3 separate regions of the Homo sapiens genome follow, and all the other regions are linked to region 3. Evidence: fine-mapped QTL for protein levels in blood plasma. A gene starts in region 3. Each other region holds a variant in brackets. All regions are shown on one strand. Distances are between the middles of the regions.

Region 1 (8,000 bases), 330 kb after region 3:
TAAAAAATAATTGTAGAAATAAGAAAACATTTTTTAAAAATAATGCTAGTTGGGCTATAGAATAGCTACAGGGAAGATAATAAGTGGTCCAATTTTTAAATTGGTCAGACTCACCAGATAATGGTTTCATTTATCTCAATCTCATTGTGTATCCTCAGGCTTTGAAGGTTAAAATGGTAGGATGGTAATAGCTCCCCTAATTTTATTAATTGCTACAATGTCATACATAATATTTTTTAGGTTTTTAGTTTGATTTTCACCCCAATATTCCCCTGGTTAATAATATTCAGAAAGCAAGTGTTACTGCTGGACTGTCCTAAGTTTACATTCTAGCTTCGTAGGAACCACTTTGCCCTGCTCCCAGGAGAAGGGCTTGCTACTTCTATAACTCCAATTCTAGGATCATTACTCTTTAGTCATTAACTGCTAAGTTGGAACCTACCATTTACAAGTAAAAATTACACTTTATTTATACATAAAATTTCGTTCTTGGAACCACAGCTGCTTTGTCTGTAAGTGGTGGGTGAGGCCTCCAGGTTAAATGTGCTGATAAACACTTGTGAAGTAAGTCAGCCATATCATAAATGTATACAATATTAGCAACTTAGACCAGAAATGTAGGAATTATTGTGATGTTTATCTATAAATATTCATACTAAAGGAGGGCAGCCGTAGTGTTGGTAATGCAAAATTTGTCTTGAACACTGTAATACACTTGTATTAGGATTTGGTGCCCTATAATATAGCGAATGTGATCCCCATCCCCACCCTGCTTACGAAAAATGTGATTCTGGAAGTGACGGTTCCTTATTTGTATAAGGTTGCTCTCCAACAGGATTATGCCTCCTCTGGAGACCAGGAGAGTCTTCCTTTGGTCTCTAAGTAATTGTCTTTTAACTTAGCTTCAGTAGGAAAGAAGAACAAAGCTTGCCTACTTTGCACTCCTATCTTCTTTTGAGTGCCTCCCTCATTGTCCAAAGCAGTGCTTCCCAAACTTCAGTGTACATAGGAATCATCCAGAGAGCTTGTTAAAACACAGATTCCTGAGCCAGACCCCACCAGCCATTCTGACTCAGTAGGTCTTGAATGAGCCTGAGAATCTGCATTTTTATGAAGGTCTCAGGTGATGCTGAAGATGCTGGTCTGCAAATCATCCTTTCAGTTGCACTAACTTATAGTAAAAATAATAATGATAAGGTGATAAAATTAACAAAGAAGTGGAATACAGTCCTCTACCTCTGTTCCACTGGAGAAAGTTGAAATATCACCTCAACAAAATTGCAAAATTTTATTTTTTTCATCCTTTTTCATAAACGATGAGGGATTCTTTCTGGAATTGGTTGATAATGAAAACACAATTCATTTTGAATGCCTCTAGCCAACTCATGTTTCAGCCAAAATAAGATCTCTTTACAGCAGTCATTTAAAGAAAAATAGGACTATTAACTAGCTGTTGTGCACAAAGAAAGATGGTTTAGTCATTATCCAACTCTCAGTTCTCCAATCCTCATTTTTCCTCTACCACGAAGAGCAGGAGAAACAACTTGGGTATCATTTGAACAAGTCTGATGTAAAACCAGGCACTGCCAGGACACAGATCTGCAGTCCTGATGTTGTCAGCCCCAGCATCTCTCTTCCTGAGCAGTATATTTTCCCTGCCTCTTATCCCCCACAGGTATTAGCTAATTAGCTAATATATACACATACACTTATAAAATACTTGGTGTGGGGATGGTGTCATGGAGGAAGATGAGGTCTTAGCTCACTTTGACTTATTTTCTCCTCAGGTTCCAGTTAGTAGAATAGTGAACTAATCACTACTGATACAAATATTTTTGTCTTTGAGACAAATTTAACAAGTTAGATTCTTCTAAACTAAACTCTTGAACCACTCAATTTTAAGACTGAATGTAATCATTATTAGAAACCCAAATATGTCAGCATAAAATTT[A/G]CATTTCTTTTCTAAAGAGAAAATACACTACTCCATAATGAAATATTTGCATACAAATTGACACCTGCTTTACCTTGTTCATTTCAAACCAAGTTTAATTAAGCACAAACAGTACTTTTTAAAGCTCCTATTTCATTGGAATTTATATTATTTAATTAAGCACAAATAGTACTTTTTAAAGCTCCTATTCCTTTGGAATTTATATTATTTTCTGCTTTCAGATATTATCTGTATACTCTTTAAGGAATTATGTTATTACCTGTTGCATTCTTCAAAAGGTTAAAGCAAGTTTTGACTGCATATTTTTGGGAATAGCAAATTAGGCCCTACTCAAGTGTCCATACCAGTTGTTAACCTAAAACCAGCCACTGAGTTTAATGGTGACAGTAGGTGGCACTAGGTATTGACTTCTTTAATATTAAATGTTCTATTTGTTCTTGCCAAGTCACTTCAGATAAATAGTAAAAAGCAGGAAAATGAATTAGAACTTGAAGATATCCCATAGATGAGAGAGACCACCTGTTGCTTTTAATAAATACCTAAAATAGTATCCAATCTTCTCAAAAAGGATGAGTTTTACCACCTATTTTAGTCTACAGTTCTGCAGCAAATCAAGCTGAGTTGTATGGGCAGACTTGGGGAAGAACCGCTGAGATCTAAAAGAATTAATAACAGATAGTACTACTGTGGCTACAGTATGTATACCAGATGCCCATTATTCAAACCTGTTGCTATGGAGATAATTATTGTCATAATTCATTTTATCAGATTTTCTTCAGATGAGACTTTGATCAGACTCTTACAGTTTCTGCCATGAATTGCTTAAAAAGCAATTTTCTGTAATCTTATATTACCCTACCTTGTTCAATTTAGAAATATTTAGCAACATGCTGATCATTCTCAAATTGAAAAGAAAAATTTAAGCACCACCTTTTACTATTTTTTTATTTATTCTTTTCATCCCTTATTGTTTTTCTGGGAAAAAATAAACTTTAGGAACTGTTTAACAATTATTTTAAATTAAGAGATTTAAAATTACTTTTAAACCTTTTTTGAGCTTAATGTTTACCAAGACACTAAATCTGAATATTGGTCTTTGATGTTTCTCATCAACACTTATTTTTCTCACCTTGTGTATCCTGACATATGAATGACCTAAGACTGCCCCAGCACTCTTCTCTTTTGTTGATCTCTCTCTCATCAACTATAGCCTCTGTGAGCAACACCCATGAATGTACCTTTATGTCTAATCACTCACAAAAACCTGATAAAGCTTTCCTACCTGGGACTCAATTCAGACTCTGGGTAACTGGGGGAAACTTTTCTTTGATCACCAGATCCTCTGTGTCATCTGGAGTGATTCCTCATTCTAGCAATCCCTGTTCCAGATGGAGTCCATCATGGTATTTCTCTCAGTGGCCCTGCTTTCACTTCCTCCTGCCACCAGCTTCCAGTAAGGGAGGAGCAGTGCAGCAGGAAGAGCCTGAACTATGGAGTCCAACAAAGTACCGACTTGGGCCTTGGTGTCCTCATTTATAAAATAGGGATAATAATATGTGCTGCAGAAGATTATTTCAAGGATGAAATGCTGGAGCTAATTAGGATCATCAAGTGGCAGTTCATGTACTCTGTTACCCATATTATGACAACACCTGCCTTCTCTAATCTCTTCCACACAGATTTATCTGATTATTCTCTCTTCTTTATAGCCTTGTTCTTATGACTTGCTTTCTCAAAAACTTCTGTGGCTTTTCATTACTGGCCAAATTTCATCCTACTGGGATCCTTGAGATTCTAATATTTCTATCAGCTTCAATAGCTTTCCAATGTTATCTCATCCTACTCATTTATGATATATATTTTAATATACATTTGTTCATATGTGATAGAATCAAGCAGATGCAGCCTCTGGTTTCTGAATACAGGGGTGCATATTCTCCCCTTATGGTGCTGTTTGCACTGTTATTCACTTGGGCTCCCCTAATGTCCCTGTCCCCTCTCTTATCCTCATCTGTTGATAGGGGAGAATTTGGGAGCCCATCCATTAAGAGATGTCTGCTCTCCTAATAATTCTTTCTCCCACAATCTCATAAGTGTTCTTTCTTCTTTGAACCCCTATAAATTTGTTTGATATTTCCTTATTATATAGTATTATTATTATATGATTATATCTGTTGAAATTCCAGCTTATTGCAGATGAACTATCTGTTCTCAGCCTTCTGAATCCCTGATTCTTCACTGAGCCTAGTTAAATATAATAGGTCAAGCCCTTTTGAATGTTTTTATTTCATATGATAAAAGCTATAACTAATGAAAACATTTATATAAAAGCATATGAATAAAAAGTTTGCAATGACTCTGATGTTAGTGTCTTACATTTCATGGCCTTTCAGTGTTTCAAAAGTCTGTTCAATGGACTGATTTACTGGAAGAACATTTCTATCACATATATGATTTTTTATATTGTAGTTATAAATTGTGGTATGATTCATCTTTCTTTGGAAATAAGTAATTGAGATATGGGAGGTAGGAAAAATATATGTTTCTATAGCGAGTTGTTCAGTTTCCCCAAATCTCAGCCCAGCTTATTATTTTAAGCCAGAGCTTCTCAAGGCAGTTCTACCCTGTCATGGGAGGATTTGTCCCAGCTGTGCCCAAATAGTGGTTCCTAAAGCCTCAGAGCAACTGACAAGGCAGGAGACTGTGGCTAGTGGTCTCCAGTCTTCAGTAGCCTTGCCTACTTCTCCCAGTGTGCCTCCAAATACTATCATTTCTACATATGCTATGACCTAGAGAAGGCTAAGACTCACTGTCGTCTTTGGCTGTTCCTAAGGTAATACAGAAACTTAGTAAACGTAACTTTCCAGCAAAATGTTGAGCATACCCCAGTATAAAATTCAGTATAACTAAAAGTTAGTAAATAGCTTTTTAGAGTTATTCCTCAAAGTTAGTTAGCTAATTTTTTAATTAACTTTGTTATCAGGTTGAAACTAGAGTGACCTTGTCTGCTAAGTTTAAATATAAAATTATGCAATAATAATACAGAATTTGCTTATGAGTAAGTATATATAACACTGTCCACCAGGTACTTAAACAATCTGCAATATATACCATTTGCTAATAAATTGAAAGTTCATGGTTTGCTAACTTCCAGACTTAAAAACAAATATTTGCAAAATGTATAAATAACTTGTTTACCACCATAACAATAAAAAGACTCCTCTGCTTAGAGAAGAGGTAAACTTCTCTGAGAATGGACTCAACTATTTGATTGACCATAGGTCCATCATCTCTTAGCTTAGTGGCCTCAGGCTAAACACTAAACACTTTCTGTCTTGACTTCCTCATGTTTAAAATGAGAATAACAATTCTGTTCACAAGGTTATAAGAATTCTGTGAATTAAAATATATAACACAGTAAGAACAATAACTCATAATGTTATGTAAATATTGCTGATATAATTGTATGTTGTTTCCATTTGAGACAGATTAAAACCATTTCCTATATGAGGAATGCTGTTATGAAACACACTTCATAAACACTCTTCTTTTTCCCACAGACCTTAGCAGCAGCATGAATTCTTCACATGAGTAGGTACCACCTTGGAAATTAGAGCTGTAAGTCATTGAGCACAGACACTGGATCCGTCTTATTTTCCTCTGCATCCTCCAGCACAGGGAATTCCCCAAACACAAGAATTCATGAATTGCCAACAAGCGAATTTTGAAATGTGGGTTCTTGAGTAGTACATGTTTTTTTTTTGTGTGTGTGTATATCAGCTCTATAGTTTAGAATCAATTTCTTTTTAATGCTGAAATTCTAGCATATGGGGTAAAAACTAATTTTCCACACAAAATTGATTTAAGCCCTGTATCATTTCTGCTCTTTTTAAGAGACAGAAAATCAGTTTGAATAGACAGATTAACAGCTAATCACTAGGTAATTGCTACCTTACTTTAAGGGGCATGCTAACTACATACTTGTGACTTCAAGTATAGTTGTATCTTACAAATGGATTTTTATATCTTTGCACTAGTAAGAGCAAACAGTGAGATCTTTGAGCTGATGAACAAAGTTACTATTCCTTTTAGCTAAGGCATACAAAGAGAGAATCCTTCCTATTGCTGCACAATCGTATGCTTTTATGTTCAGTCTAGAGAGCAGCCTCAGCTAGTTTATTTTCTAATTTACAAAACACACACAAGTGCCATTAAACAGAAAAAATAATTAAAACAAATCTCTATCTCTAGCTTGTTTTCTTCTGGAGCTTGGATTCCATCATATATATCAATTAACTTTTTTATAATACCTGTATGTGCCTAGATATGTCAAACTCAAAACTATTTTCGGCATCTCCTCTCCCAAGTCATCTCTTCCTCACATGTTGTAGTTCAGGGTCTCGCTAGCACATAAGATATCCTTCCTGGAAACCTGAGTTCTGTGTTTTATTTCTTTATCCTCCTCACCTCTTACATACAATCAGCCATAGTGCTGAGCCCATTCTACCTCCTAAATAAATTTTGAATTAATCTACATCCTATGATTCTTCATCCCTTCCCTAATTACATCATTTAGATTGTGGTAGGCCTCCCTGTCTTCAGCTCTCTTTCTTTCAACCCTTTCTCCAAACTGCAGGCATAGCAAGCATTTAAAACATTGTCATAAATTTCCCTTGCCCCTAATATAAAGTCAAGATCCTTGCTTACCTCATCATATATTACCCCTCCTCCTGCTGAATCACCCACCTCTACTTATCCCCAACTTTACACTTTACCCTTTCTGAAACGGTCACCTTCTTGGTTATTCCCAGTTCTCTTTGCTCCCTGGATTTTCCCACATGTGGTTCCCAGGACACACTCTCCCCTTCTTCATTGGTGGAAGTCCTGCTTCTCCTTTACACCTCAACCTGGACATCCCTCTGGAAATCTTCCACTGACACACTCTTCCCTAAGGTACTCCCAGAGCAGCCAGGGCTTCTCAGCTTAGAGTGGGCATCCTGTGTACTGTAATTCCTCAAATTATCATCTTTATGACCATTTTAGGAGTCAAGAGACATCGACTATTCTTACTTAGCCTTTTCTATGTGTAGTATTTAACAAGGTGACTGGGATATGCTGGGTGCCCAGTAAATATTTGTTGAATGAATGAATTCTATAAGTGGCACTGAGAAGTACCTAGAAAGATCCCACTACTGGGGAATTCATAAAGATGAGATGGCAGAAAATCAATTGTTATTTTAATGTCTAAAGCTATTTTGCTTTTGGTATAAGCATAAATCGACCTATTTTCTGAGATAGACTCTTCAAAGAATGCCAAGTCACCTTTGATAAAATAGTTAAAGCAGCTGTACCGTTTGACATTACTACTAAAAAGCTGAAAACCCTGGACCAGTTTGCACCTGTGAATCTATGATTTCCCCTGCCATCTTCCTTTTTAAAAATAATAATAATTTGTGTAGTGGATTTCTGTCTCCAAGAAGCACAATGAATCCAAGGCTTCATAAATTTACTGTGGAACAAAACAAAAAGTTGTTGACATCTCTAGGTTTAAAAAATTATTGACTTTTGCTTTTCATTTTGTTTGGCTGTTTGTAGGCAGACCAAACTGATAGTCATTAAGAAGATAAAATTCAGTAATAGAAAGATGTGGTTGGTCAAAGGAAAACAACTATTTAATCAGCTTCTTCCTGAACCAGAGTGAGGATGTGTGTAGGGCACATTGGGGGATTCTAAAAAATGGTCCTATAGGATCTTAGTAAGTCAGATATAGCCCTCCAAGGCCAAACTTAGTCATTACATGATACCCTGGAAACATCTTTTGACTAATTTTTAAGGTAACTGTAGTAGCTAACCTCCCTATCTTTCTGCTCCTAACTGGACACGGCTATCTACTGCTAGAGGATCCACCCCCCACCTCCACCCCCGCCCCACACACAACGTCTACAGTATTTTTGCAAAATCATCTTCATTCTCTGCGATCTTAAGAAATAGGGTAATTCAAAAACAGATCTAGCCAAAAGAGAAAAATAAATCAGCTAAAAACATGTAT
Region 2 (8,000 bases), 320 kb after region 3:
GTTTTTTCTATGCCCACTGATGCCACCATAATTCAAGCCACCATCAGCTCTCTCTGGACTACATACAGTATAGTCCTCCAATATTTCACAGTACGCATTCTTGCCCCTGTACCATCCGTTCTACACAAAACCACAATATTAGGTTTTAAAATGTAAATTCTATCTTATCACTTCTTTTCTTTAAAATCTTTTCATACTTTGCATCTTCCCTGGTCGCATGGCCTATAGGGCCCTATAAGATCTGGCTTCTGCACAGCATCTGAACCCATCTCTTTCCACCTCTCCTTTTCCAGGATCCCCACAAGCCCCAGTCTTCTCTCTGTTCCTGAACACAGATCTTCACATGCCAACAGATATTTTACATGTAAAAGATTTTTTATTGCCAAAAATGAGACATTGTTTAATTTTTAATTTTTCTTTTCAGTGTTATTCTGGATTTTAAAAAAAATATTAGTGAATTTATTTTACAGTCCTCAGCCCCATAACATTTCTGGAAACACTAATGTCATTTTATTGAATAAGAAAAAAGTGGAGGTCAGGGAGGCTTTGGGGAGGTGGAAATTAAGAGTTGGCTCTGTCCAGTGATTCAGACTCAGCTCTAATATCGTCGTCTCCTGAGACTGCCTGAGCACTCCCTATCACATCGCCCTCTTTATCACGTTGTCTTCATAACACCTCTAGTGAAACGCTCTGGTTTATTCATTTACTCGTTTATCATCTGCCCCCACTACAGCCCCCAGACTACATGTTCATAAGAGCAGAGCTCAGCCAGTCCTTATCACCACAGCTCCCCCGTGGCGCAGTTGAGCAATGCCAATCACAGACTAAATTTTCTATAAATCTTTACTCCTGTGTGTGTTACGAGACTCCAGGAGGGATTGTGGAGTGTTTACGTTTTCCCAGCTTACCAGGGAACTCTTTTCTGACAGAATGCTGAGATGTGAATCAGTTTTCAATAGAAAGACAGTTTCAGAAAGAAAGCTTTGAGGTATTTTTAAATTCGTAGGTTTGCAATGACCCTGAGAGGTCCCTCTTACAAATATTGGAAGTAAGCCATACACAAGGAGCAGGCATTGAGTGGGGAGAGACATTGATTGTCTCTACTACCTCGCTGCTGAGCCCGGTAAAAAGTCAAGCCTGCCTGCAGGGTTGAAGGAGAAGCAGCTTCCTCACCACTTTAGCTCCCCAGTTAAACATCAGATAACAAGAAAAAAGCTGTTCCTTCACATCTTGGAGAACCTAGATGAGTGTTTATAAAAAAAGAAATAGAGATATATAATATGATAAATTGTTTTTATTTTTACATTTCTCTACATTTATCCCTAAAAGATAATGCACAAATTCTATCTGGAAATGCTTAAATATCCAAAACAGAACTCTTAATTTCTACCCCCCCAAAGCCTCCCTGTTCTCTATTTTTTTCTCATTCAGTAAAATGACACTAGTGTTTCTAGAAGTGTTATGGGGCTGCGGCCCATAAAACAAATCCATTAATAATTTTTTTTAATCCAGAATATCACTGAAAAGAAAAACTTAAAAATAAAACAATGTCTCATATTTGACACTAAAAATTATATATATACATAAAATGTCTGTTGTCTGTATATATGTATGTGTGTGTATATATTACATGTGTGTTTATATATATATAGTCTGTTGTCTAGTTTTTTAAGTTAAATTTATATATTCATCTCCTACCTGACTTTTCAATTATCTATTTTCTCAATGATTTGGACTTGACACACTAAAGAAATATTAGGCCTTTCCTCTTTTGTTTTTCATATCCAATGAGTTATTTTGTCAAGCCAATTCCTTCATAATAGTGCAATTACACCAACATGGCACACATATACATATGTAACAAACCTGCACGTTGTGCACATGTACTCTAGAACTTAAAGTATAATAAAAAAAAATTAAAAAGCTTGCAAAAAAAAGTGCAATTAATTTTCAAAAAGGATCTTTTGGTTCTCAGTGTAAAATAAAATCGCAAAAAATGCCCACTTGATGTATCTTCAATTTCATTATTTTCTCTGTTACTGACTTTGTGAACAAAACTGACCCCATCTAAAATACATGTTTTGTTGATGTTTATGGTAGCGTTGAACCTCAAATTGCTCCTCAGATTTCTAATATTAACACTCTTAAGCTTTAACATTAACACAGAATATGTACATGGTTAGAAAGGATTGAACAACTATAACTACAAATATATGAATTTAAAGTCTCAAAACATTTTATTATTATTGATGCAGTCTTATTTCAGTAAAAGCCTGAGGAGCAAAACACTTCACAAATAGATGTTCTCATTCTTCCTAATATCATCTCAGCAAGGTCCTTCCTAATTCTTCATAGAAATACAGTCCCCTGCCAAATTATCTTCTCTCTGATTTCGACATTTGACTTGCACATTCTAGATGCCACACTTTGCTAGACACTCTTATTCTCTCTTTGCCAGAAAACATATAACTATTGCATTCATAATAAATCATACTCAAAATTTACCTTAAAGCAGAATACTTAAGGACATCACATAGTCCTTTATTCTAGTCACTCAGCACTAAGATTAGCTTAGCAGCACCTAATTCACCTTTGTTAATGTGCTGCTTTCTTTCTGAATGTTCTCAATAATGTGGATAACTGTACATCCTTTTGCCAAATAGATTGTAAGGTGTAGGGCATGAATCTCTTTTTATAAACCCTTCTCAGAATGCTTAGGATGGTGAGGCTTCATACTGCAAGCTCAATAAATGTTATCTTTGAATAGAAAAATTCTGAAATGAAAAATGCACTCATGTTTAAAGCCAAAATAGAGGGGAAATAGATAATTTATAATATCCTATTGCTTCACTAGAATTTTCTTTTTAGTCTGGAAAATAGACTACATAACCAATATGATTGTATCAGGCACTTGTAATAAAGTGAGATGCTAAAATTACATTAATGGAATGATTAAATTGGCATTTTGTGATTTTTAATCTCATAAAGGGTTTATTAAGTACAGCTGGATGCCTGTTAAACAATCTCTTTTTAATACCTACATGTAAGGCTTGAAGTTAGATTGAAAGTACTTATTATATTCTGCCAGGCTTTCTTGTTTATTTGGATGGATTTTCATAGCACCATTAGCTTATTTTGAAACTTTAGATTTGTGGTGAATTCTCTTTCACCTGTGATCAAATTGACTAAGAACAATGAACTGATCTTGGAAAAAAGTAGACATCCACAGACTGATGCATTTATAACCTTTACATGCTAGTTTGCACATTCTAATCTAGAAAGTATTTTTGGTTAAATCCTTTGTTTATTTCTATTTTGTGGCATATGGGATTGTGCCTTTGTCAATGCTGACTTTGTCTAAATTGTCCATAACTCACCACTCTGTGTCTATTATAATTACATCCCCAGTAGATGCAGTATGTCCTCTGAAAGCCTAAATACTTCATGTTTCATGTTAAGATGGTATTGTCTTTAAACATTTATTTATTTATTTATTCATTTGCATGCAGAATGTCCTAAATTATAAAATTTTTGAGGTTAGGATTTATATTCTTTTATTTCTGTGTATCTTGTTAACACCTATCACAGTGTCTGATGACTAATAGATTCTCAAAATTATTTGAATGAATTAATACATGAATCTCAATTTGAATCTCCCAAAGATAAATCAAGCTGAACAGTCTATATTACATTCCAGTCATCAGAAAACAGCCATCTAAGAGTCACCTGGATCCTCTCTTTGCATCAGCTCCCATGGCCAGTTCTTCAGTTTCTTCTTACCACCCGTTCCTAGTAACTTTCTAATCTCTCCAAGACACTGCATCTGCACTGCCTCATCATCACAGCTCAGATCCTTCCCAACTTCTGTAATTTGTTCTCAATCCTACACTAGATCTGATCATAGTATTATGGTATTATGTATTATTTAAATCGTTCAATGGCTTTTTTTTTTTTTTGAGACGGAGTCTTGCTCTGTCCCCCAGGCTGGAGTGCAGTGACACAATCTTGGCTCACTGCAAGCTCCACCTCCCGGGTTCACACCATTCTCCTGCCTCAGCCTCCCGGAGTAGCTAGGACTACAGGCGCCCGCCACCATACCCGGCTAATTTTTTTGTATTTTCAGTAGAGACGGGGTTTCACCGTGTTAGCCAGAATGGTCTCGATCTCCTGACCTTTTGATCCGCCTGCCTCAGCCTCCCAAAGTGCTGCGATTACAGGCGTGTTCAATGGCTTCTTAAACACCTGAGAATAATATCCAAAATCCTTAACACAGCTGATGAAAGTTTTTCATAATCTAGCCTCTCTCTTTTTTAAAACTTCTGCAATCTCTCCTCACTCAGCACTCTAGATGCCTTTCACAATGACCTTCATCCAGTTCCTGGAAATGCCCATGATTCTTCTTCCAAAGATCTTTGTATATTCCTCTGCATGGAACATACCTTTATCCTAAGTATGTTCTCTTTATCCTTCAAGGCTTGCCTGAAGCCTCGGTTTGTCAAGAAAGACTCTCTGGACCTTCCAAAGTCTTATCTCACAATGTCCTGAAACTATCCTTTGCAACACTGCCATGTAATTGATTTATCTAGCATGTAATTCATGGTTTATTTCTAGGGGTTCTTTCTCTAAAATATGAGCTCGATAAGGTCTTGCTCAGTATTTAGTTTGTTCACTATTTCATGTACCCCATCTCCTAGCACAATGTATTGCATCTTTGAGTGATCAATAAATATTTTTGAAGAAATAAGTGAATCAAAAGATATACTGGAGGCCAGGCATAGTGGCTCACGCCTGTAATCCCAGCACTTTGGGAGGCCAAGGCAGGTGGATCACCTAAGGTTAGGAGTTTGAGACCAGCCTGACCAACATGGTAAAACCCTGTCTCTACTAAAAATACAAAAATTATTTTGGGGTGTGGTGACAGGCACCTGTAATTCCAACTACTCAGGAGGCTGAGGCAAGAGAACTGCTTGAACCTGGGAGGCAGAGGTTGTAGTCAGCTGGGATCATGCCGTTACACTCCAGCCTGGACAACAGAGCAAGACTCCATCTCCAAATGAAAAAAAAAAAGATATGCTGGATATATAAAATAAAATAAAAGTGGGAAAATAAGGTAATAATATTTGGGGAGTTAATAAAATCTCATGCTGGTGTGACCTTCCATTGTATTCATTCATAGTCCATTGATTGGGGTTCATCTTCAAGGGTGGTTTTACCAGGTACTTTCTGTACAGCTTGTCCTATTGGAAGATATCCTCATGCTGTCTCTTTTTCTGCTTTGGTAGTTGATGGACAGTGGCAAGAGTGGAGTTCGTGGAGCCAGTGCTCAGTAACGTGCTCGAATGGGACTCAGCAGAGAAGCCGGCAGTGCACTGCAGCTGCCCATGGAGGCTCCGAATGCAGAGGGCCATGGGCAGAAAGCAGAGAGTGCTATAACCCTGAATGTACAGGTAGGGCTTGATTCCTGCATATCATGGGCACTCGTACCATGTAAAGGGCACATTATAAAATGTGTCAGAACTATGCCAGAGGGTCATGAAAGAAGATAATCATTATATATATATGTGTGTGTGTGTGTGTGTGTGTGTGTATACATGTATTTATTAATGAAGCCGATTATACCAGAATTTATTCTAATGTATGCCATGCTAATAAAGTAATAAAATTCAGGAGATGAACTACGAATACATTTGAGGAAGTTTAGCACTGAGCTTGCACTTTTTACACTTTTTTACACTGTTCTTCGCAATGCTCTATATTTGACCTGTAAGTTAAATATTTGAATAAGGTTTATTCACAGTAGTAGATTAACAAAAATGGAAGGGGTAGTAACATTCTCAGATTTTAAAATTTTTAAAGGAGTGTGTGGTAGATGACTGACATTGACCATGAAACATTTCTTTCAGCCAATGGTCAATGGAATCAGTGGGGTCATTGGAGTGGTTGTTCCAAGTCCTGTGATGGCGGCTGGGAAAGGCGAATAAGGACCTGTCAGGGTGCAGTGATAACAGGGCAGCAATGTGAAGGAACGGGCGAAGAAGTGAGAAGATGCA[A/G]TGAGCAGCGATGCCCTGGTGAGAATGAACCCAAATTATCCCAAAAGAAACATTTCATAACGTGAAAAAAAAAAGATTTAAAAATATTGTCATTGGTTAAGGGTCATATTCCTCAACTAAAGAACTACTAATGATAGGTGGCAATTTACTTGTTTCTGTACTATGTGGGGCATCCCCTGTTTATGTGTCATAGAATCGTTCCATGTGAAATATTTGTTTGTGGAGATTACAAAACAAGTTGCCTTAGGATATATATACTGGAAATGTAAAGACATAAGAAATGAATGAGAAGATAAAGAAGTGTCGCTGACATTCAGATGCTTTTAAGTTCTGTTGCTAATTACTCTGACCTTGATGTGTGACCTTGATTATCTACATTTACTTGCGTTTGCCCCATTTTTCATTGGCAAAGGAAATTCCTATGAGGAATGCATTTTAAAATGAAAGTATAAAGTCTTAATTGCTAATGAAAAAATGAAAGTCCTGCTACATTAAAAGATTTTACATATAAGCAGAGAAAATAATGAAAGGTCAGAAACTGCCCAGATTATACAGCACATATTTTACAGGATCATTTAGAACAAAAACTCCTTCCTAATCATGTGTACCTTCCATTAAAATATTATTGACACACTGAGGACTCAATAAGTAAGTGAAAGTCAGGATTTTAGAATGAGATCCTAAGAAAAATATTATAAGTATACTAAAGATGTGATAGGACAGAATTTTAAAATTTGACAATATAGTGCCAACGTGCTGAACCTAGAGAATTTGAAGACCCACTTAGAATCCTGTTGCTGCTAGTAACTCTGTGAGCAAGCTGACTGATCTCTCTGGCTGTCTGATTCCTGGGGGTACAGTGAGTACAGCTGGTTGTGAGATCTTTGAGGTTCCTTTTCAGTTCAGAATGCTATGAATTTCTGCCTTTATCTCACATGATTGTTTCAACTTAGAAGAACCAAGGTATTCTAAGAGCTATCCAGGAGTCAAAGCTTTGTATTTTTCCAAAGTTAGTATTATAAAGACTTCTCACAGTACAACACTAAGAATAACAACAGAACTGGATTTTAAGAGTAACAATATGTCAGTTGGAGTTTTGTGGGGGCTTAAAAAAGATCGAAAATTAGGGCCAGGCATGTTGGCTCATACCTGTAATCCCAGCACTTTGGGAGGCTGAGGCAGATAAATCACCTGAGGTCAGGAGTTCGAGACCAGCCTGGCCAACGTGGCGAAACCCCGTCTCTACTAAAAATACAAAAATTAGCCGGCCGTGGTGGCATGCACCTGTAATCCCAGCTACGCAGGAGGCTGAGGAAGGAGAATAGCTTGAACCCAGGAGGTGGAGGTTGCAGTTAGCCGAGATTGCACCACTGCACTGCAGCCTGCGTGACAGAGCAAGACTCTGTCTCGAAAAAAAAAAATCTAAAATTACTTTTGTTAATTCTTAACACCATATGAATTCAATATGATAAAAAGTAACCAGCATGCAGGGTTGTTAAGAGGATGATACCTATTCAGATTACCACTGTGAAATTCTTCCAGTGCTGCGTAAGAAGAATTAAGATGTATTAAACAAAAACATTTATTTTGCCTAGGGAGAAATTTCACAGAATAGTAAGCATAATTAAATCAACCCCTTCAATATTTGATGTTATCTAAACCAGTCTGGGCATACCACAGTTCTTAACTGGTCTTTTAAAATTGTCTTTCATCTGCACATATAGAGCCAAGATAGTACTGCTGCAATCAAATTTACAGAGATTGCCACCTGCTGTTTGAAAAACATTTTACAGATCTATTTATGAAAAAGATAGTGTACCTTATTTGCCGGGCTTGTTTGCTGGCTTTCATGACTTAAGGCAGGTTAAAAAAATATCACATAAAACTAAAAAAAAAATTATATACACTACACATTTTTGTTATTATTAACATTTTCATTTTACTCTTTTC
Region 3 (8,596 bases):
AACTGAAATAAGGAGTACATATTTGAAACCAAAGGGGAGACTAAGGATACTGATTCTGCCACTGACCCATTTAATCAGGGTATGGAAGCAGCAGACATATAAATTGCATCTGTTTGACACGGTTGGAAGAGATGCCATGTCTTCATAAAAGAGCAGGCTTCAGTCAAGGAAGTGGGTAGAGAATATTCTTCCTCTTGTTTGTTGGTATAAAAAAGCATGGAGATCCAGAAGGCAAAATGAGAGAATCTGCCAGGAAGAGAAATGGTAGAGATAAGTGGATCAGAATTGGTAGAAACAGGACTGAACATGAATAAATGTTCAGAAATAATAGGTAGTCCATAGACTTCAATACCTGGTGTTGATAAAGCTCAGCAGATGTGCTGTTCCTGGCAGCCTTAGTTATTGTCATCATTAATGATAAAGTGGGACTTCTGTCAAAGAAAAAAATTATCAGAGTGGGAGAGGAATAAAAATGGAAAGGACTGTCTGTACCTCAGAAGATGATAGCAAGGGAGAAAGGCAAAGCTAGTAAAACTATGGAGGTTTTCAAAATTGTGATAGAATAGAGAGGCATTTCCAACCTGTGAGTGGGAAAATTGTGATTCTTTCTAGTCTAGGATTTAATTGCATTTTTCTCTCACTGCTTCCATTTCTTGTGAGACACCTTCTGTTATTTAGACTATGTCAGGAAGAGCCTTAGACATTATTCAATCAAGCTCTTTTCTGTGAGATAACTGAAGTCCAGAGAATTCATAGCTTCTTGTCCTTAATGAGGTATATACTTAGTGTCAGTTTCGTGAGTAAAAATGAAGAATCTTGATTTCTAGTATAATTGAAATTTCAGGGATTAAAGATAATGGTGTAAGTATAGTAACTTTATATGAGAAAATAACTAGCTGAAAAAGGTCAAATTTGGGGGTGAATGTATGTTCGATTGCAAACCCATATTTTGAGGTTTTAAAGTCCATATTTTCCAAGATACTTCTACAGCACACAAATATGACATTATGTGTTACCTACTTACAGCATTTCCTTAATATCACCAATGAAATCTTGAAAATTGATGGCCAAAAGTATTTACCGACTTTTTTTTAACTTGTATCGTTGTATAGGGAAATAATGATAAAAAATGGAAACCTGATGCAACTGGGATTTTTGTAACCTTGACTTTGCCTAGCATGGAATAGGACTACACTTGAACTAACCCAGGATAGCTGTTCTATGACATCTCCCTTAACCCCAAGTCTATCCCTTTATTTTTTAGTACTTCAATGTACTTTCTATTCTGGGATGTCCAAGTAGAAAATGACCAATTTGTTTTTTTACATAGAGACTAGAGGATATACAGCTTGGTTTCTGAGAGACTTCCTTTTTTAATAATAATAAAATAATGATAATAAACAGGAGACAGAGGAGAAGAAGTTGTTTAACTTTATAGTAAATATGCTAATATTAAGGATAAGTTCTCATAACAATGTAATCTTGTAATATTTTGATCATTTAATTAACATTCCAAAGCTTTGTGTATGTGTGTGTATATATATGTGTGTGTATATATGTATGTGTGTACATATATATGTGTATATATATATGTGTGCATATATATATATGGGAGATACTAAATACTAAATACTAAAAACTAAATACTAATACTAAATACTAAAAAATTAAGGCATATTTAACAAGAAATAACCTACAAACCTATCCATGCTTCTTAAAGCCTTACTGAAAATAACAAGTCACAGAGTTTAGAATGTGGTAATACAGTAATATCAGAAAAACTATGACAGAAAGAAGGAAAGAGAAAATACTTTCTAAAATTGAGTAAACATATTCTAGAAACATTCTTATTTGAGTATGAGAATTCTGCAAATGATACTGAATTTTAAGCAATGATCCTGGATTATAGGGTTATTCTCAAAGTGGAGGGACTAAACTTAGCACATACAGACAAAAAGATGAAACAGAAATAAATCACACTTATAACCTCATCATTCCAAAGTAATCTTAATAAAATAATAGCAGGAGAGATAAATTTGAAAGGCTTTAATATTAGATACCTGGGTCAATTTAAAATGCCATACCAGACTATATTTTGATGTGCTAACACTGACCTCTCAATAGTTCTTCTGTAAATCATCAAGGAAACTTATGTAATAATCAATTTATACAATTAATGTGGTAGTTTTGGAATTAAATGCATTACCTTATAAAAGAGAAATACAAAGCAATGTAGTGAAACTTCCCAAGCAAATATATGTGTATCAACTGAAATACACATATACATATCATATACATATATATACACACACGTGTATGTGTACTTACAAATAATGCGTGCATACATATACATATGTATGTATAAAATATGTGTATATGTGTTTATATATGTAAACATAAATATAGACATAGACTTGTGAAAGAGACCAATGAAAGCAGATAATTATAATTTGAAATGGTGATTTTAATATGTATTCAGTCATAAAAGTGGACCAACATCAATAGAAAGGAAAGGACAGAGAGCTGAGGGTGTGTAAACTGCTGCTCTCTTTTTGCTGTTGGGTCAACATGTCAGCAATGCTTTCATATGGAGCAGCTTGCAGACATGAAACAAGGTGGTTCCTCCTTTCTTTGCCTTTGGATTGTGCTGTTGTTAGTGTCCAGAGACCAGACTGTCCATATAGGGTTCTTTTTGTGATTCTTTATTATAATCCCCTGAGGAAGTCAGACGAGCCTGGGGTTACTGGAGACAGTGTCTTGCTTGGCGTAGTTATCATCCACAAATCATCTGCTATAAATATATCTCAGAAGGATCATCATCAGGCCAGCTCAGTAGCCTGCAATTTATGAAGGTTATGAGAAACAATGTGAAGGGTGAAGCGCTTTATTAAGGGTGGCTTTCTTTTCTGACCCTGCCCTGACTTCTACTTGAATATAAATGATCCTGGGAGTAAGTGAACCTTTCCATTTAGGATTTAGGCTTTTAAATTGTCCCTTTCAGCTGTTATTCTTATGCCACTGTGTCATGACTTTAAGAATTTCTAAGAAACATCAAAATCAGTGTTACAAGATAATATGAGAAATCACTAGATGCAAAATAGAGGTATAACTGAACCTCACATTACATTCTTTCCTTTTTATGTATAAACCATCCAAAGCATTTTTTCCTCCGTTTTTATTCCACATCTGTCATGCTTTTTTTTCCTCTGGATAAAGTAACAGAACTGACCAAATTGCCTTGCGAAAATCATAATTACGATCTCTAGGGAAGTTGAAATAAATAAAATGTTTTTCTCCTTTGTGTTGCTCAATGTTCTTTGTTTTTAAAAGAAAATGTGTTGCTTAAACGGTGTTTCAAAATTTGTTCTGGACATAAACCCTAATTATTTCCTTTTAACATTTCCTTAAATGAATAAAAAATATTGTAAAGAACCAAAATGACACAAAACCAAAATGCCACCCAGGCTGCTCTCTTGCCGGTGATTTGTTACTGGGAAAATAGTTAAAGCCTGCTGGGGAATTATTAACTGTTTCCCCTTACAGTGTTTATCCCAGGCATTCGTTTAAGACGGGAAAGCCTTGAAGAGGGTCACTCTATTAATATGCATTAAGAAGTAAAGGACCAATTTTAATATTTCAAACAACTCCAGTGGATAACAGACCATAAACTTCCTGTTTTCACTATCAATCTCTTTTAAAATGGTGTTCTTGGCTATCCATAATCGCCCCAGGGGAGAGAAACAAGCGGAGGAAAAAAATGCAAGAGTGAGGGGAACAAATGATGGAAAATTGCTTTATTCAACTTCACCTGCCGCTCGAGAAACTCACCCTTACGAAGATTCCAGCACTTTATATGAATTACCCATTATGGTTTCCTCCCACCACATCACTGCACTATTTTAGCACTTGTTTTGCAAACCACCAACTGCGTTTACAAGTAGAAACATAATCAGGAGGCGAATGACCTTTTGTAGCATGTATCTGAAGCTGGTTTATCAGACACTTCGTCAGCCAACTGTCCAGGAGGCAAAATGACTATCTATGATGATAGATAGACAGACAGATAGATAGTTAGATTAAAAGGTGGGGAAACATCCCTTTTCCCTTTTTCCTTTCTATATAATCTGGTTTTTTCTCTTCACCCCTTTTCTCGCTTCTTCCCACCCCGTCCCCAAACCTGTTACTAGGGAAACTTGAAAAAGAATCAGATACATTAAGACTACAAAACGAAACAAAAGTTTAGACCCCGAAACCATGATTCCATTGCCAAGCACAAAGCAATGCAAGAGCCCAACGTCGGTCGCCGCACCGCGATCCTGACAAAGCCTGTATGGAGCCAGAACAAATAAGATGTTAATTGCAGCCTCGCAGAGAAAAAAATACTATTGTTCCAGCCAGAGACACTCAGCAGCTCGGTAGCTGGGATGTGCCCCCTCCGCTGCGGACTGGATCAATTCTGAATCCCGGTACTGAAATGACAGCTCTCTGGCTGCGACAGGTCTGCGCTGAAAGAAAGAGAAAGACGATCAAGTCCAGCATTCACTTCCCACCCTTCAGAGTCGCCTTCCCATCCTCCGCACCCCCCTGCCTCGCCTCCCAGTGAGTTTCTCTTACAGTTGGTCGCCGCCAGCCCCAGCGGTGGGAACTGAGGATGCAAAAACCTCCCAGACGCAGAAAATACCGCTTTCGGGACGTGCTTGGGTTTGAGTAGCCGTGACGTGCAGGCGAACCGCGGCCCTGGCTGGAGCTCCGTGGAGCCCCCCTCCCGCCAGCCTCTCCCCCGCCCTCCCGCCGGGACTCCCTCCTCTCCCACCCCGCGGCTCCCTTCGCCTTCTCTCTCACACACCCGCCCGCGCCCCCGGCAGGCAGAACTCCAGGAAGTCGCAGCGGCCGCGCCGCGCGAGCCGAGCCTCTGGCGGGCGGCGGGGCGCACCGCAGCTGTGCATAAGAAGGGCGCGCGGCACCCGGGACGCGCGCGCACACGAGCACGCGGGAGGCCGCCGCGCGGACGCGCTCCCGGGACACGCGCACCCCCCGCGCGCGCGCCCAAGGGAGAGCGAGCACTGCGCGCCGGCGCGCACACCCGAGACAGAGCTTTACTATCTCGCTCCCTCTCGCGCCTCCCTCCTCGCTGGGCATTCAAACAGCTTTCCGACATCACCAGCCAAGGATTTTTTTCCCCGCTCTCCTTAGTCGCCGTCCGTCCATCAGTACCTGCAGGGGGGAGGAGGAGGAGGGAGGAAAGCGGAAAGAGGAAAAAGCATAAGCTTGAGCCTTCCGATCCGACCACGAATACTCCTGTAATAAACCCACCGCCCCAACAAATCTGCCATAGCAGCCGCCGCCGCCGCCGGTCACTTCTCGTCTCAGCGCTTTCTTTGCTTCTTGGTTTGTTGGGGGTAGCTTTTATGAAACAAATCTTTGCTATTAAGCCACTTACATTTTGGGGGGTTCCTTAGAGTCTCCCTTGGGGGGGCTTCTCCCTCCCTTTAGCCCCCCTCGGTTTGGAGGTTGGATTCAGTTGGATACGGCGCAAGGTTCTGGGCTCCTGCTGGCTTTTTTTTCCTCTCTCTCATCGACCCCCCTTTGGTTCCCACCCCCCACCTTTTGCTTTTCGTATGTATGCATTTTTAAAAATAAATCCTGATTTTGGAAGCTGAGCCGGGGAAAATGGGCAACGGTGATTGGGACCGAAGGGGAGTCTCTCCGTCACTGTTGCTGGGACGCGTGCCTGTGCTGGTGTCTTAGAGCAAGAGCCTCCCTGAGCTTTCGGAGTGGAAGGTAAGGAAGGGGGTCCAGGGGTCACCTTTTCTCTGCCGGGGGTCGCCACCGTGGAGCTTTGGGCTTAATGTTTGAGAAGGGAGGAAAATGAAAGGAAAGGCTGTTGCTGGCGGATGGGGAGGCTGTGAGCAGATCCGACTGTCTGCATTTACTTAAACGCCGCAGTTGAAAAGTTAGAGAAGTCTGGTTTTCAAGAGATGTGCTGGGTCAGAAGGAATAAGCGGAGAGACCTAGAAAATCTGGCAGTTTTGTGTGATTGGGGTAATTTTATGAGGGGAAAATTTTAGGTTAAAAGGAAGTTAAGAGAAGGCAGTGGGTCTTCTATTGGGGGGAAAAATCTGTGGAGTGATGGCGCCGTCTATGTTCGACTAAACTAAAGTGTCACCCAGAAAATCAGTTTTGAGAATAGCTAAACTCAATGCTGGTTTGCTTCTCAGCAAGAGATAAATAAATAAATAAATAAATAAATAAATAAATAAAACATCCTTGACACCTCCGTGGCCAGCCTTTGCCCCCGCCCCCACCCCTTCTTTAAGAGGGAAACACGGCTTTTTGAACGGGCCCTGCAGTCCAAAGGGGGGTGAGGGTAATGATTTATTTTTTATTATTTAGAACAAAATAAGACTGTGTACTCCAGACTGATTAAAAATAAAGAGCATTATATTGAGTGCGCTCTCTTGAGCAGGCATTAAAGTGAATTCAGAGCTATTTCCTCACTCTCTGATCATTGATGAGCACGGCATTGCAGACATGCACTGTCAAATAAATGAAAGCAAAAGTACCAATTTCATTAGGAAAAGACATACGACCTCTTTTTGAGTTCCTGATTATAAAATGAAGTCCCCTTTCATGGATGGAATTCCTAATTTAGACACTTATTGTCACATTGGCTCTCAACGCCTACACTCTATCCTGAAGAACACTGCGCAGACCTGCATTGCCTGCAAAGTGCAACACCAAAAAAAAAAAAAAAAAAAGGAAATTATTTCCAGAATTTCTTACAACTTTCTCTGTTTTTTTTTAACCTTTAAATGCTCATTGGCTTTATTTTCTCATGAAGAAAATGCATTATTCATTGAGCTATTTGCTTGAAACAGAGAACACTGTTTTGATGGTCCCAGCAGTTCTGATGTTATTTTAAACTGCTGCTATATAGAGATTTAGAGTTGGGGCTGTGTTTGCCTATATCAAGACATAGAATTTGAATTATAATCTGGAAAATGCAGATCTATCTTCAGGGACTTCGGTCACTGGATTTGGTGTGCATGCGTTGGTGTGTGTTATGCAATGGGAAGGAAGAGGGTTTTATCCTTTGATTCAGAGAAGACCCAGGCAAAGGCATGAAAACTCTTAACTATCTATATGTCTGTATGTCTGTCTCTGTTTACAGAACAGTGGAAGAGACTGCAGCCTAAAGACTTTTAAAATTAACTTGGCATCACTTTTATCAGCTCAAAGGCTAAACAAACAAACAAAAGCAGTGTCATTTATTCTAAGAAATAACTTCTTAAAGGTTAAAGCTGAAAAATATTCAAGTTATTTTTGGATAACAACTTACAGAGGTAAATATAACCAAGGACTACTTTATTATCCAAAGCCAGGGTTAAAATTAAAAAAGAAAAGAAAAGAAAAGAGGAGCTTTGGAGTTGTTGTTGGAAAGGGAGCAATTTAATAATTGAAATCTGCTAGGAACAAAAATGTTAATGTATTTTATTACCATGTGTAAGCCTTAAATTACAGTTGATAAGATAATTTTTCAAAAATTAAAAGACTGAAACCAGCTCAATTACTATGGTTCTGGATTTTTTTTTTTTTTAACTGATATCACCTTTGGATACAGATACTAATACAGTGATCCACTTTATGTATCCCAAAAGGGCATGTCACATTGAAATGACTGCCCTAAATCCTGGTTCTCAATGGTGATGTTGAACAACAAGTCTTCCCTATGTATTTATCCATCTATGCCCTTTCTCAAATGATGGTTTTAAAATTAACTAATCCACATGAATGCCCATGTTTTTGCAAAGGAATTTCTGAGCAGTTCACATGGTGGCCCCTGCAAAGGCAAGTGGGGCATTTGGGAGATGATGTTCCATCTGTAATAAATTATTATTTGTGCTTTTAAAATTGTGGCCATAATTTATCATCATTACTTTTCACGTTTAAGAGGAGAGAAATAATGTGATGACAGCTGTTCCCAGATTATCAGATTAGATTTTGTATGATAGTGTTTACCGCAGAGGACAGAGAGAGAAAAGGTTGTATAGACTATAGACTGATTAATACTATTTCGACAATTAACATTTACATTATGACGTTTTAAAACTCCATGTTTTCCCTTTTCATTCGATAGAATGATAATGGACGTGGAGGATATCCTAGTAGATAAGTTAGGGCATTCCTATTAATAATCTATTAAATGTTATTTTTAAATTGAATGTTGCGAATTTGACCATTGTGAATGGCCACATGAGGGCGCTGTTCACACAGCAACAGATAATTTTCCTGTGTTATAAAATAAAAATTACCTGCCCTTCTTTTAAAAAGGGCTTTTTACTGAAATCTTGAAAACAGCTGGCTGTAATATTGAAAGGAGTTTATTTTCTCAATGCACGTAGACTCCTACTTGCATTTTACTTTCATTGCCATTTTTACAGGCCAAATGACATAGGATGAAGGCTGTTCGTAACCTGCTGATTTATATATTTTCCACCTATCTCCTGGTTATGTTTGGATTTAATGCTGCCCAAGACTTCTGGTGTTCAACTTTGGTGAAGGGAGTCATTTATGGATCGTATTCTGTAAGTGAAAT

Alleles and levels. Alleles are on the strand shown, and positions count from the first base shown. The strength of an association depends on the size of the effect and on how common the allele is.
For the plasma level of the protein whose gene starts at base 5,063 in region 3, A is the high allele of the variant in region 1 and G is the other (strong association).
With allele A in place of G in region 2, the plasma level of the protein whose gene starts at base 5,063 in region 3 is higher (strong association).

What was found. PIP is the posterior inclusion probability: the model's chance that the variant is causal. Protein levels are from antibody-based Olink assays in UK Biobank. Linkage for the fine-mapping came from a reference panel and not from the study's own genotypes, which makes the PIPs less certain.
Region 1: its variant is fine-mapped to the plasma level of the ADGRB3 protein (UK Biobank, PIP above 0.99).
Region 2: its variant is fine-mapped to the plasma level of the ADGRB3 protein (UK Biobank, PIP above 0.99). The variant lies in the coding sequence of ADGRB3. If it changes the protein, the assay may bind it differently, which can mimic a change of level.

What each region holds. Positions count from the first base shown.
Region 1 is chr6:68,959,742-68,967,741 of GRCh38, forward strand. The region is part of intron 8 of ADGRB3 (adhesion G protein-coupled receptor B3); the gene reads left to right. Among named protein-coding and RNA genes, the nearest start is that of ADGRB3, 330 kb to the left of the region's middle. The variant A/G (reference allele first, on the strand shown) is at 1,952.
Region 2 is chr6:68,950,742-68,958,741 of GRCh38, forward strand. ADGRB3 (adhesion G protein-coupled receptor B3) reads left to right here. Exons shown (of 32, transcript NM_001704.3): 7 at 5,283-5,447; 8 at 5,904-6,068. Among named protein-coding and RNA genes, the nearest start is that of ADGRB3, 320 kb to the left of the region's middle. The variant A/G (reference allele first, on the strand shown) is at 6,051.
Region 3 is chr6:68,630,220-68,638,815 of GRCh38, forward strand. It overlaps ADGRB3 (adhesion G protein-coupled receptor B3), which reads left to right and starts at 5,063. Exons shown (of 32, transcript NM_001704.3): 1 at 5,063-5,781; 2 at 7,172-7,343; 3 at 8,442-8,596. The coding sequence starts at 8,457. It overlaps LOC127898563, which reads left to right and starts at 5,671. Exons shown (of 1, transcript NM_001414704.1): 1 at 5,671-5,748. The coding sequence starts at 5,671. The coding sequence ends at 5,748. ADGRB3-DT (ADGRB3 divergent transcript) reads right to left here and starts at 4,105. Exons shown (of 2, transcript NR_125872.1): 1 at 3,966-4,105; 2 at 2,444-2,837. RefSeq lists a silencer at 4,802-5,011.